2 separate regions of the Homo sapiens genome follow, and region 2 is linked to region 1. Evidence: fine-mapped expression QTL. Tissue or cell type: nucleus accumbens. Region 1 holds a variant in brackets; the other region holds the start of a gene. All regions are shown on one strand. Distances are from middle to middle. Region 1 has its middle 30 kb from the start of LINC03083. Region 2 holds the start of LINC03083 (long intergenic non-protein coding RNA 3083).

Evidence for each region. PIP is the estimated chance that this variant, and not a neighbour inherited with it, causes the effect. A credible set is the group of variants that fine-mapping cannot tell apart.
Region 2: it holds the start of LINC03083, and the variant in region 1 is the best candidate, but not a certain one, in a credible set for the expression of LINC03083 in nucleus accumbens (GTEx, PIP 0.64).

Annotation. Positions count from the first base shown.
Region 1 is chr20:20,937,534-20,942,916 of GRCh38, reverse strand. No RefSeq gene overlaps it. Among named protein-coding and RNA genes, the nearest start is that of LINC03083, 30 kb to the left of the region's middle. The variant G/C (reference allele first, on the strand shown) is at 2,988.
Region 2 is chr20:20,968,443-20,973,825 of GRCh38, reverse strand. LINC03083 (long intergenic non-protein coding RNA 3083) reads right to left here and starts at 3,378. Exons shown (of 2, transcript NR_186504.1): 1 at 3,278-3,378; 2 at 1,264-1,674.

The sequences.
Region 1 (5,383 bases):
ACACTTGTTTATCCTTTGTCCTCAGAGACTCTGGGAGTGAAGTTTGCTCAGGGCAGCCACTTCATTTTGCCTTTTGCCATCAGAACAGTTAGCTTGTTTCTTTCCATTTAAGGTGTCAGGCTTGGGTCAGACCAGTCCACTGTGTCTTCATGACTGCAGGAGACCTCATCATGCCCTCAACTTCTCTATAGGCACTATTCCTTTGACTTGAGATGAACAGAACATCTAAACCTTTCTATTCTGTGAGAGTACAGGACTCAGAGCAGAATCAATTCTTCCAAAAATTATCTTCTTTCTTCTCCGGTAGCCTCCAGTCCTTTTATTCCATTTCTGTGGGTGAACAATTAAGTCACAAAGCAAGCACGAGTCACTTCTTTCATAAAACCTATATCATGGACTTGCAACTTATTTGGAAGGAGCATCAATTGTCTTGGGCTGAGACCCGCTTGAACATCTTGTTAGATTCCATTTGAGCAGCAGAGATGGATTAAATAGTTAGCTAAAGGTAAATGCTGCAAGTGGAATTCCAGTCTGGACAGTCAAGATTCAAAATCCAGACTCTTTATCTTTGATTGAAAGTCTTAGAAATAAATTTTATTTCCCTCTCTATGTTTGTCTGTATATTATATATTTTCCTATATATATGTATGTATGCATCTGTATATGTACAATAATAGTTGTACAATAAGTAAAGTTATATTTTAAAGATTACGCAAGCAAAAGCATTCAGCGCAGTTTAGTGTGATGGGAAATTGCAGACAGGAATAGTGGATAAGAGGTTGTTTGAATAGTCAATAATTAACACTACAACAATATCAATCATAATAAAACTCACTCCCCCTCCCCTGCCTTTTCACAGAGCATGCCCAACAATGTCCTTACAGCAGATACAAACACAAGCATCATGAAGGTTTCCCCTATAATTTCCTCTGTGATACATTGATAGGGTCATGCCAAAACACAACCTGGTAGAAGCTGTTCTGAGAGAGCAAAAACAATTCAGTCCTAGGACACCAGCTCTCTGCCACCTGAGATTAATGCAGCGAGACATTTTACAGGACTCAGGCAATGGCTGGATGGCATAACTTTCAGACCGTCCTTTGTAAATATTGTTTCTTTTAATCAAGCCTTTGATAAATATTGAGTGGCAAGAAGTTCAAGGTTGCCCAGAGTAGTTAGAATGAAGCTATTCACTATGTTGGTTAATGCAGACTTCAGCAGGTAGTCCAGCTGGGAATGGGGCAGTTATGCTTCCAGGCAGTTTGACAGGCTTGACAAGGACACCTGGCTCTATGGTGGCAATCAATCACTGCCACAGTTATACTGTGTAACAAATCATCCCACAACCCATTGGCCTAAAACAAGGATCACATATTCCCAAAATGTCCAAAGTAGCTGGACTCCAATGTGTTTGGCTCTGAGCAGCCATTTGGGTCTACCTCTTCCCCACATCTTTCCTCCTTTACTGGATCAGTGGATTAGCCAGGATATGTTCTTGTGGCACTGGCAGAAACATAACAGGGCAAGACACAGCACAAGGATATTCCATGCCTTTGCTTCCATATTGTCCATTAATCTTCCACTGGTCAAGCCAAGTTTCATGGTCAAACCCAGTATCAATGGGGTGGGGAAGCCTACGCTTTTCACCATGGGAGGGAAGTCAGTAAACAATAGTCCAAATCATCACATTCTACTTAAGAAACAATTTGGGCACTTTGATGAGAATGTCTATAATTAAAAGAGAGTGACAACATCAAATAGGGATGAGAAAGTTGAATAACTGGAATTCTCCTATAACTTTTGTGGGAATATAAAATGCTACAACCACTTTGAAAAACAGTTGGCAGATTTTTAAAACATTAAAAAAGTGCCAGCAGCCTTCCACTCTTAGGCATTCAGCCAAATATATAGAAATGAAAAGATGTATATGCTCTTCAAGAAAAAGACTTGTATACGAATGTTCATAGTATCCTTATTCTTAATAGCTCCAAAGTAGAAACAACCCAAATGTCCATCAAGAGGGGAATGAATATTCAAAATGTGTTTTTTTTCATATGAGATACTACTCAGCAATGAAAGGAACAAATGATTGATATATACAATAAAATGGATAGATCTCAAAAACAACATGTTGAGCAAAGGGAACTAGACACTAAAGAATACATGCAATGTGAAAACATTGATATCAAGTTCAAGAACAAACAAAACTAATATAAGGTCATAGAGATTAGATCAATGGTTACCTTTGACTGGAAGGAGCATGAAAGAACTGTCTGGGGTAAGGAAAATGCTCTATATCTTGATAGGAATTTTGGTTATTGACAGTCATTGAATTGTTCACTTAAAATATGTATTTCACTGTATGTAAATTTATCTCACTTGAAACAAAAAATGGAATTTGGGGTTAGGTCTGGCACACAAAAAAGATTGGACTTCCAAGGCCATGCTTTTAGGCCATCATGGCTGACTTGCCCAGTGTCAACGTCAGCCACGATCAAACTCCTCAAGAAAATGCCCATAGGCTGGTTGATCTTGAGTAAATCATGCTTTTCAAGAAAAACTGGGTGTAAAAGGTTCTTCTAGGCAGCTGTCTTGGGTGGGATTTCTGGGAAAGCTGAGCCAGAGACAAGGACTTGAATGCAGATGGTTTATCTGGGAGGTGGGCCCAGGAAGCAGGAGTGAGGGAGCAGGGAAAGGAAGCAAGGGAAAGAAAAAACACCAGCATATGAGCTCATGCTGGAGGCAGCTGAGCCTGGGTTCCACCAGGAGCTCTGAGGACACTAAATTCCTCCCAGAATTGCCCAGAAAGAACCACAGAGTGGGGCTTTCTTTACAGCAACATAGGAATGGCCTAATACACATGAGAAGCCATACTGATAACATAAATAGTCCATTAACACAGATTTTATATGTTATAGATATTATGCACTATACTCTTAAAGCAAGCTAGACAGAAGAAAAAATCATGGGCCAGGTCCACTGGCTCG[G/C]ACTTGTAATCCCAGCACTTCGGGAGGCCAAGGTGGGTGGTTTGCTTGAGTCCAGGATTTCGAGACCATCCTGGGCAACACAGAAACCCGATCTCTATGAAAAATACAATAATTAGCTGGGCGGGGTGGTTCATACCTATGGTCCCAGCTACTTGGCAGGCTGAAGTGGGTGAATTGCTTGAACCCAGGAGGTTGAGGTTGCACTCCAGCCTGGGCAACAGTGCAAGACCCTGTCTCAAAAAAAAAGGAAAGAAAGAAAGAAGAAGGAAAGAAAGAGAGAAAGAGAAAGAAAGAAAGAGAAAGAAAGGAAGGAAGGAAGAGAAAGAAAGGAAGGAAAGAAAGAAAGAAAAAAGAAAGAAAGAAAAAGAAGGAAGGAAAGAAATAAAAAGAAAGAAAGAGAGAAAGAGAGAAAGAAGGAAGGAAAGAAAGAAAGAAAGAAAGAAAGAAAGAAAGAAAGAAAGAAAGAAAGAAAGAAAGAAAGAGAAAATCATAAGGCGATGGGTGCAGGTGTAATCCCAGCACTTTGGGAGGCTGAGGCTGGAGGATCCCTTGATCAGAAGTTTGAGGCTACAGTGAGCCATAATTGCATCACTGCACTTCTTAAAAAGAAAAGAAAATCATAAGGAAGAGAAAATATATTTATTATTCATGAAGTGGAAGTGGATCATCACTAAGATCTTCATCCTTGTGCAATGTCTTCACATTGAATAAGCTGAAAATGAGGAAGTGGGGGGTGTCTCAGGAGCGGCAGAAACAGAAGAAAATCTGCATATAAGTGGACCGATGCAGTTCAAGTTCACGTTGTTCAAGGATCAACTGTATAAACTTAATGCTTAATGTAAAATATTGCTTACTGCTCTGTATTTATTAAGTGGGAAGTTGGCAATAATCTGATTTATCCAAAAGTAACATTTAATCATTCAATGTATAAACTTAAGAGACGATGGGCAGTGGAGGGGGAGGGGCGGGAAGGCAGCAGGCACGTCTGTGGCCCCCTCTGCAAACCAGCTGCTGGAAGTGCTGGGGCTGACATCCATGCCCCACACAGATGCCCAGCTGCGGTGAGAATTGTCTTCTCACAGCAGAGAATGTCTTCCTTTTCTCCAGATAACTGTCCTCAGCAGATGGGACCGCCGTGCTTGGGAGATGACACCCATGGAGGCTCCTAGCCAACGACAGAGTGACATGAGTGTGTAGGAAGCTGGCTCACAGGCCTAAAAATGGACTGACTGTATGGCAGAATTCATTCTTCAGAGACCCTGTGGAGCCAGGCTGAGGCTAACCTTCCTCTGAGACCACATCCTTGCTTCCCTTTGCCCCTGCCCTCCCCTGATTCTCTCACCCTCCTTCTCTGGAAGGTACATCTTTAATCCATTGCTTGAACAAGAATCTCACCTCAGGCTCTACTTCTAGAGAACTTGACCCAACACAAAGGGTATTCTGGGTTGAATTGTGTCCCCACAAAAGATACGCTGAAGTCCTACCCCTCAGAACCTGCGAATGTGACCTTAGTAGGAATAGGGTCTCTGCAGAGGTAACTGAGTTAAGATGAGATCATTAGGGTGGGCCCTAGTCCAGCATAACTGGTGTTCTTATAAGAAGAAGAGAATGCCATGTGAGGACTGAGACCCGCAGAGAGAAGGCCGTCATGGGACAACAAGGCAAAAATCGTGGCGATGCCTCTACACACCAAGCAACACCAGGGACTGCCGGCCACCAGAGCCAGGAAGGGGCCAGGAAGGATCCTCCCAGAATCTTGGGGGAAGCATGGCCTGTTGCCTCTGTGATTTTAGACTTCTGGCCTCCAGAAATGTGAGAGAATACATTCCTGTTGTTTTAAGCTACCCTGTGGTATTTAGTTATTGGCTGCCCTAAAAATCTAATACGGGCAGTTGGTCCAGCCCTGACGTCTGGGGTCATTGTAAGGCTCTGCTTCCACGTGAGCTTCACGAACAAAGGGAAGGGGGTGCTGGACATGAGCAGTCAGCCCCAAAATCGTGGCTGTCCACGGTCTTTAGTCACGGGGTGAGTGGGGTCATCAGACTAGGAAGAAATGTCGTTTTTGAGTAGTCAAGGAAACTTCATAGTGGGAGAGAGTTTGGGGTCCTCTGAGTCCCCCAGTGCTATAGCTTCCTTCCACTTTTCTGGGCCCTTATTCTTTCCTGATCCGGGGATGTAAGACTATTTCCTCTGCCTACTTCTCCATCCAATCTCCATCCACTCTCCATCTTCATTTTTATCCATTATGTATTTAAGAGTAAACCCCCCTTCCATGAAAAATCAGAGGGAAAGTGTAGAATTGAATGCCCACCAGCCTGAAGAGATAGTTCTACTTCCATAGAGGACAGCTCAGAGTCACCAGTATTTACTGCTGGGATTTGCTTTATTTCGATTAT
Region 2 (5,383 bases), 31 kb before region 1:
CTAAGAGATAATATCAGTGTTTCATAACCATAGTTTTGTTAACATTCCCACACAGGTATAGTGATCCTGTGATATAAAGCGGTACAAAGACTTCCCAGAATGCTATCAGATCCAGCCAAAAAGAAAAGAGCCCGTCAATTTTGTGCAATGGGCTGGAGTTATGGAAGAACTCACTCCAGGCAGAGATTATGGCTCTGCGCTGATGGCCCATCCAGCGTGTGTTGTGCTCCATGATTAGATCCAATTGCTGTCTTCTCGGAATGAATCAGGAGCCACGGCTCATCTCAGGGAACCAGAGGGGAGGGCACCTTTCAGCTGAACAAGGGGAAAAGGGTCAGTTCACGGCCATTGTCCACAGTCCAGATAAGTTGCTAAAGCGTGACTCTTTGGCAGCGATCTCTGCTGACTTGGGGCTCAAGTGTCACTGTGGTCTGAGAGGCCTAAAGGAGGCCTGGATAATCAAAATTTCTGTCCCACCTTCAGTGAAAAGATTCTGTGAAAACTGAGTGGGATTTTGTTATTGAAAACATTCAGTCAGGGGGACTGTGTGAGATGGGCTTGTGCACCATTTCTGCCATTGTTGTGGCTTGAGCTGTTCTTTTCTTTTTTTTTTTTTTTTTTTTTGAGATGGAATTTTGCTCTTGTTGCCCAGGCTGGAGTGCAATGGTGCAGCCTCGGCTCACTGCAACCTCCTCCTCCCAGGTTCAAGCAATTCTCCTGTCTCAGCCTCCCTACTAGCTGGGATTACAGGCGCCCGCCACCAAGCCCGGCTAATTTTTGTATTTTTAGTAGAGATGGGGTTTCACCATGTTGGCCAGGCTGATCTCCATCTCCTGACCTCAGGCGATCCACCCGCCCCAGCCTCCCAAAGTGCAGGGATTATAGGCGTGAGCCACCATGCCCAGCCATGTCTTGAGCTTTTCAAGGGGGCGAAGGAGAGATCAGTAGAAAGGAAGGAAGGAAGGTGTCTGGGAAGGGGATTCTGGTGGGTACTTAGGGTGTAAAATTTGAAGAGACACTGGCTCTCTAGGCCTGGCCCTGGAATCTGGGGTCCAGTGGTAATGAAAAGCCTGTGAGACTGCCTAGGTTCAAGGCATGGCTCTATGGCCACTGGTGGAGTGAATATGGGCAAATTATTTTCAGGGCCTCAGTGACTCATCTGTAAAATGGGCCTAATGATAGCAGCATCTCATGGGGCTTGGGGGGAAATCAAATATTCGGTGCCTAGAATAGTATCTGGTAAATAGTGAATACTCAAATATTGTAGCTTAAATCATTTTATTACCATTATCCTTAAAGGCAATTTGAGGGACTAAAACAATTTGAGACACTAACATTTCTCAACTAACAAGAGGCAACAGAAATAAGAGGAGGGCCGTACCCCCGTAGGCTTGTAGTCAGCTGAGCTTCCTGGGAAACGGGAAAGACAAGCTGGCACCGGGGCAGGAACGGAAGCTCCTGTCTCTTCAGTACTTTTGTTCTACCTCACTCCGGCATTGGAAACCTGGTCACAAATGCCTTGTCATTTGCTGGGCTCTGCCTTCCTCCTCATCCATCAAGGGTTCTCCTTGGCTCTTCAATCCAGTGTTCTTAGACCTTTAAAACGCCTTTATTCTCCAGCCAGTGCTGTTGGCCTTTGAGATGTCATTACTGTGCACGTAGCGGCTCCGGTGCCTACACAGTGGGAAAAACCATCAAGAGTACACAGATAAACCCAGGCTGCCAACTTCACACACTCAGCAAGTCCCCTCTGTGGACAATTAGGGCCAAAAGACAAATATTGACACATTAGACTATTTCCTCATTTATTTTCTGTTGATTGTCTGGGCAATCTGATGGGGCAAAATTCCACTTTTCTGATAACTGATTCTTGGCTAATGGAAACAAATAAAGTAAAGGCTTCTGTCCACAATGGGTCGAGGCCCATTTTGCGGAACTGCTAATCGGATTAAATGGACTCCCAGCTCTATTTGCAGCCACCAAACTCCCTTGAACACTTTCCACATCTGAAGGGTACCCATCATGGTGGCTCTCTTGCTGTTGAAATCAAATGGAGAGGAGCACGCAAAGTCTTGAAACTGCAGCGAAGCCTTCTCCAAGCGAACAAAATACAGGGATGAGGAGAAATGCGTGCCGAGTCCTCCCAATTAAGTGGACAGACAGAGAAAGTGGTTCTGGCCAGCGAGCTGCAGAAATCTATTTTCCTCCTTATAAACACATTTTTCCCCTATTTTTCTTCTTCTTCTTTTTTTTTAAACTGATAATGAGAGTAGTGAACGTGTAAACTTCCACTACTGTGATCCTCATCTCCCGAAAAACCAGAAGTCCTGCAAAAGTCGTCCTCATCGAGCATTCTGGGGGGCAATGCATCTTTCTGATTTTGCCAATTTATCTAGAAAATATTACAATTTAATCTATGTTAATAAAAGACCAACAGGGTAACAATGCCTGGGGTTTTATGTGTCTGGCTGGCGTCTATTAGCATTTAAATCTGCATCCATTACGTTAGTCCCTTAAAATAAACACAAACATTTATGCGAGCGACAATTCGAGTTAGCCTTAGTCAGTCTTAAATAATGTCACTCAACTCGGTATTTGGACCGAAGCCTGTGAATCATGAGGTATATTTTTGCCTACAGTCTGATAATTTTCAAAGCTATTGGCAACCTGGGAATTTTCCTTCCTTATCACCAGGGCTCAGCTAACTTCACTAAGACTAATCAGGCTGGGAATCATTCATTCAAGGATTGCATGATCATGTTTTTCTTTAGCTGTGACAGCTGCCTCAGTCACATTAGCAATGCAGATTAGCCAGCCTAATAGGTTAATGCAGAACACACGAAAATTAGGTTTAATCCCCAGTGAAATAATCTAACATTTTCACATTTCTTGATGTTGGGATAGAGACATTGCTGGTGACTCAATTAGGTGTAATGTAGATCAAAGCAAATTTACCTTCTGGCTGAACCTTCCCAATAGTTTAGACAGAAGAATATAGCAAGGGCCCTCTACTAATTGGTGAATAGCTGTGGGGAAAATTGCATTAGGAACATGTAGGATGTGAGCAGAACTCTTCGGCCGAGGACAGACAATTGACGTATTTTGCAAATATCCACATCTCTCACTTTGCCATGCCTCCCAATGATGTTGCAGCTCAGCGCAGATGCAAACACCTTATGTACCAACCCATTCATCCTTTGGGCATAACTGCAATAAATGGGAACACACACACATACACACACACGCTCTCTCTCTCTCTCTCTCTCTCAATCCATACCTTTTTCACGTCCTGTCCAGGAGTATCACAATTGTGTTCTGAATGGGCCTGCATTGTGAGAGGAGCAGAAAGAGAACGAGAGGGTGTCTAATGTTTTCATTCTGGCGAATAGCATCTCAAACACCCATCTCTTTCAATCATAAAGGGAAGGACACAAAAAATTACATGCCCTCAGTTGCCAAATTATTTTTTGCCTTGACATCTTAATTCTTAATCCTTGTATGTGGTCAAATCAGTCTACTATAGGCAACCAATCAAGCAATTATTTCTAAATTATATTTGCCCAACTCACATTGATTGGCCATTCTTTTCTTACTGGGTTAGCTCATTAATTCTGAGCAGCTCGCTTATTATGCCTTCCACATCATTTTCCTTCCGAGCCTATCTGCTCCAGCCAGCCTGCTGATGTTTCAAGATGCCATACAGGGGAGGGGGAAAAAAGCAACCAGCGATCTACGCATTGTCTCCTCTAGCAATTACAATTCACATTGCTGATTAACTTTGATGTGAAAACTAATGAGATAAGACAAGTTATCAAGGCGGGCCTGATCATCATTCCATTTATACAGCATTTGCCACCGGTGAATGACAAAAAACTAATGAAGACATATCTGACAGCAGGCTGAGCGGAGGCAGGTTTCGGTTCCCCATCAGCCAGAGCTCGGCTCCCTTCTCATGGTCTATCTGAGACACGTTGGAATTAGCTTAATAATGAAAACACTTCATCTAAACGGACACATGTTTACATTAAAATAACTACATGATAAATAGATGGCGGAGATTTTATGCCTTCTTGAGTCTAAACAACAAAGTAAAAATGTGTTCTAGTATTCACTAAATCATTCGAAGGAAAATTCAATTTAAGCTATTATACTTATCACTAAGCGTCCCCCCCTGCTTATGGGTAACAAATGTTGGTTTTCAGAGGGTGGGGGAAGAGATGCGATCTGGGAAGAACAGGAGTGATTTACTTTGTGAAGATGGTAATGGCAGATAAACAGAAGTACAATATTGGTAAAGCTAATGAACATTGTTCACACAGTAATAACTTCGTGGTGGGGAAGATCCACTGGAATGGCATTCCCAGCTGTACATTTTTGTAAGTTCTCTTCATTTTCTGAACTCCAGCACTGAAGATCTCCGCTTTCAATTCACGTGTGAAGATGGTTCCATTCCTTTCTACACAAACATCTATGACTTTAGAAAAAACCCAAAGCATTTCCCTGGATATGTTTGTATATATTTTTTTCTAACGAATTAACGAGGCAAGGCAGATATTACACAGGAAATGTACATTTTCTTTGGATACAGTTTTTGGTGCTGAACATTAAATATTTTTAAAAAGTACATGCTTTATTTAGTTGGTTAAATAAAGTGGTTACATAGGAGCTGCAATAAAATTCATAAGTGTTCATATGGTTAAAAGGATTCGAGTTCATTTTTGCCTCTGCAACATCCTTGTTACATTAGCCTTATAAAAATGAAAGGAAGTCAAAGGCTGATTGTTTTTATAAATAACACTGCTTTCCCAATGAGTTATTTTGTTACTTTGATAAATCATTTCCTAAAACATAAAAAAAGAAAAAAAAAGTTCGTTTTCCTAGAAGCAGCTTTCTTCCTCATAACATATGCAAGTGTATTCTGTTTTTCATACATAAACATCATAGCATATTATTCCACTCAAATATCATGGGAAAAGCCAGAATAAAAAAGCAAAAATAAGTTCTGGCATTCCTTTTTTTAAAAATAGGTAGTAGTTTTTATTTTCTTTAGGCGAATATGATTAGAAATATTTTTAAGGCAACCGTCCACAGGTATTTCCAGTTATGTACTTTGAACTTTAAGAAACAGAAATACAAGAATAATATCAGCGACCATCATCAAAATCTCCCCCACCCTGTTGTTCTCCCAGCAGTCACAAACAAAAACAGCCACAAAACAAAACAAAAAATTAACACAAACCTATGTTTCTCGAGTGGCCATACTAAAGAAATCTACCGTTTCTGATGAAAGTTAACCGAAAGTACTGGTTTAAGGATGAAGAAACAAATTAGTACTCCAGTGAGGGATTAAGTTTAAAAGCTCTTCTCAGAACCGAAGATAAAT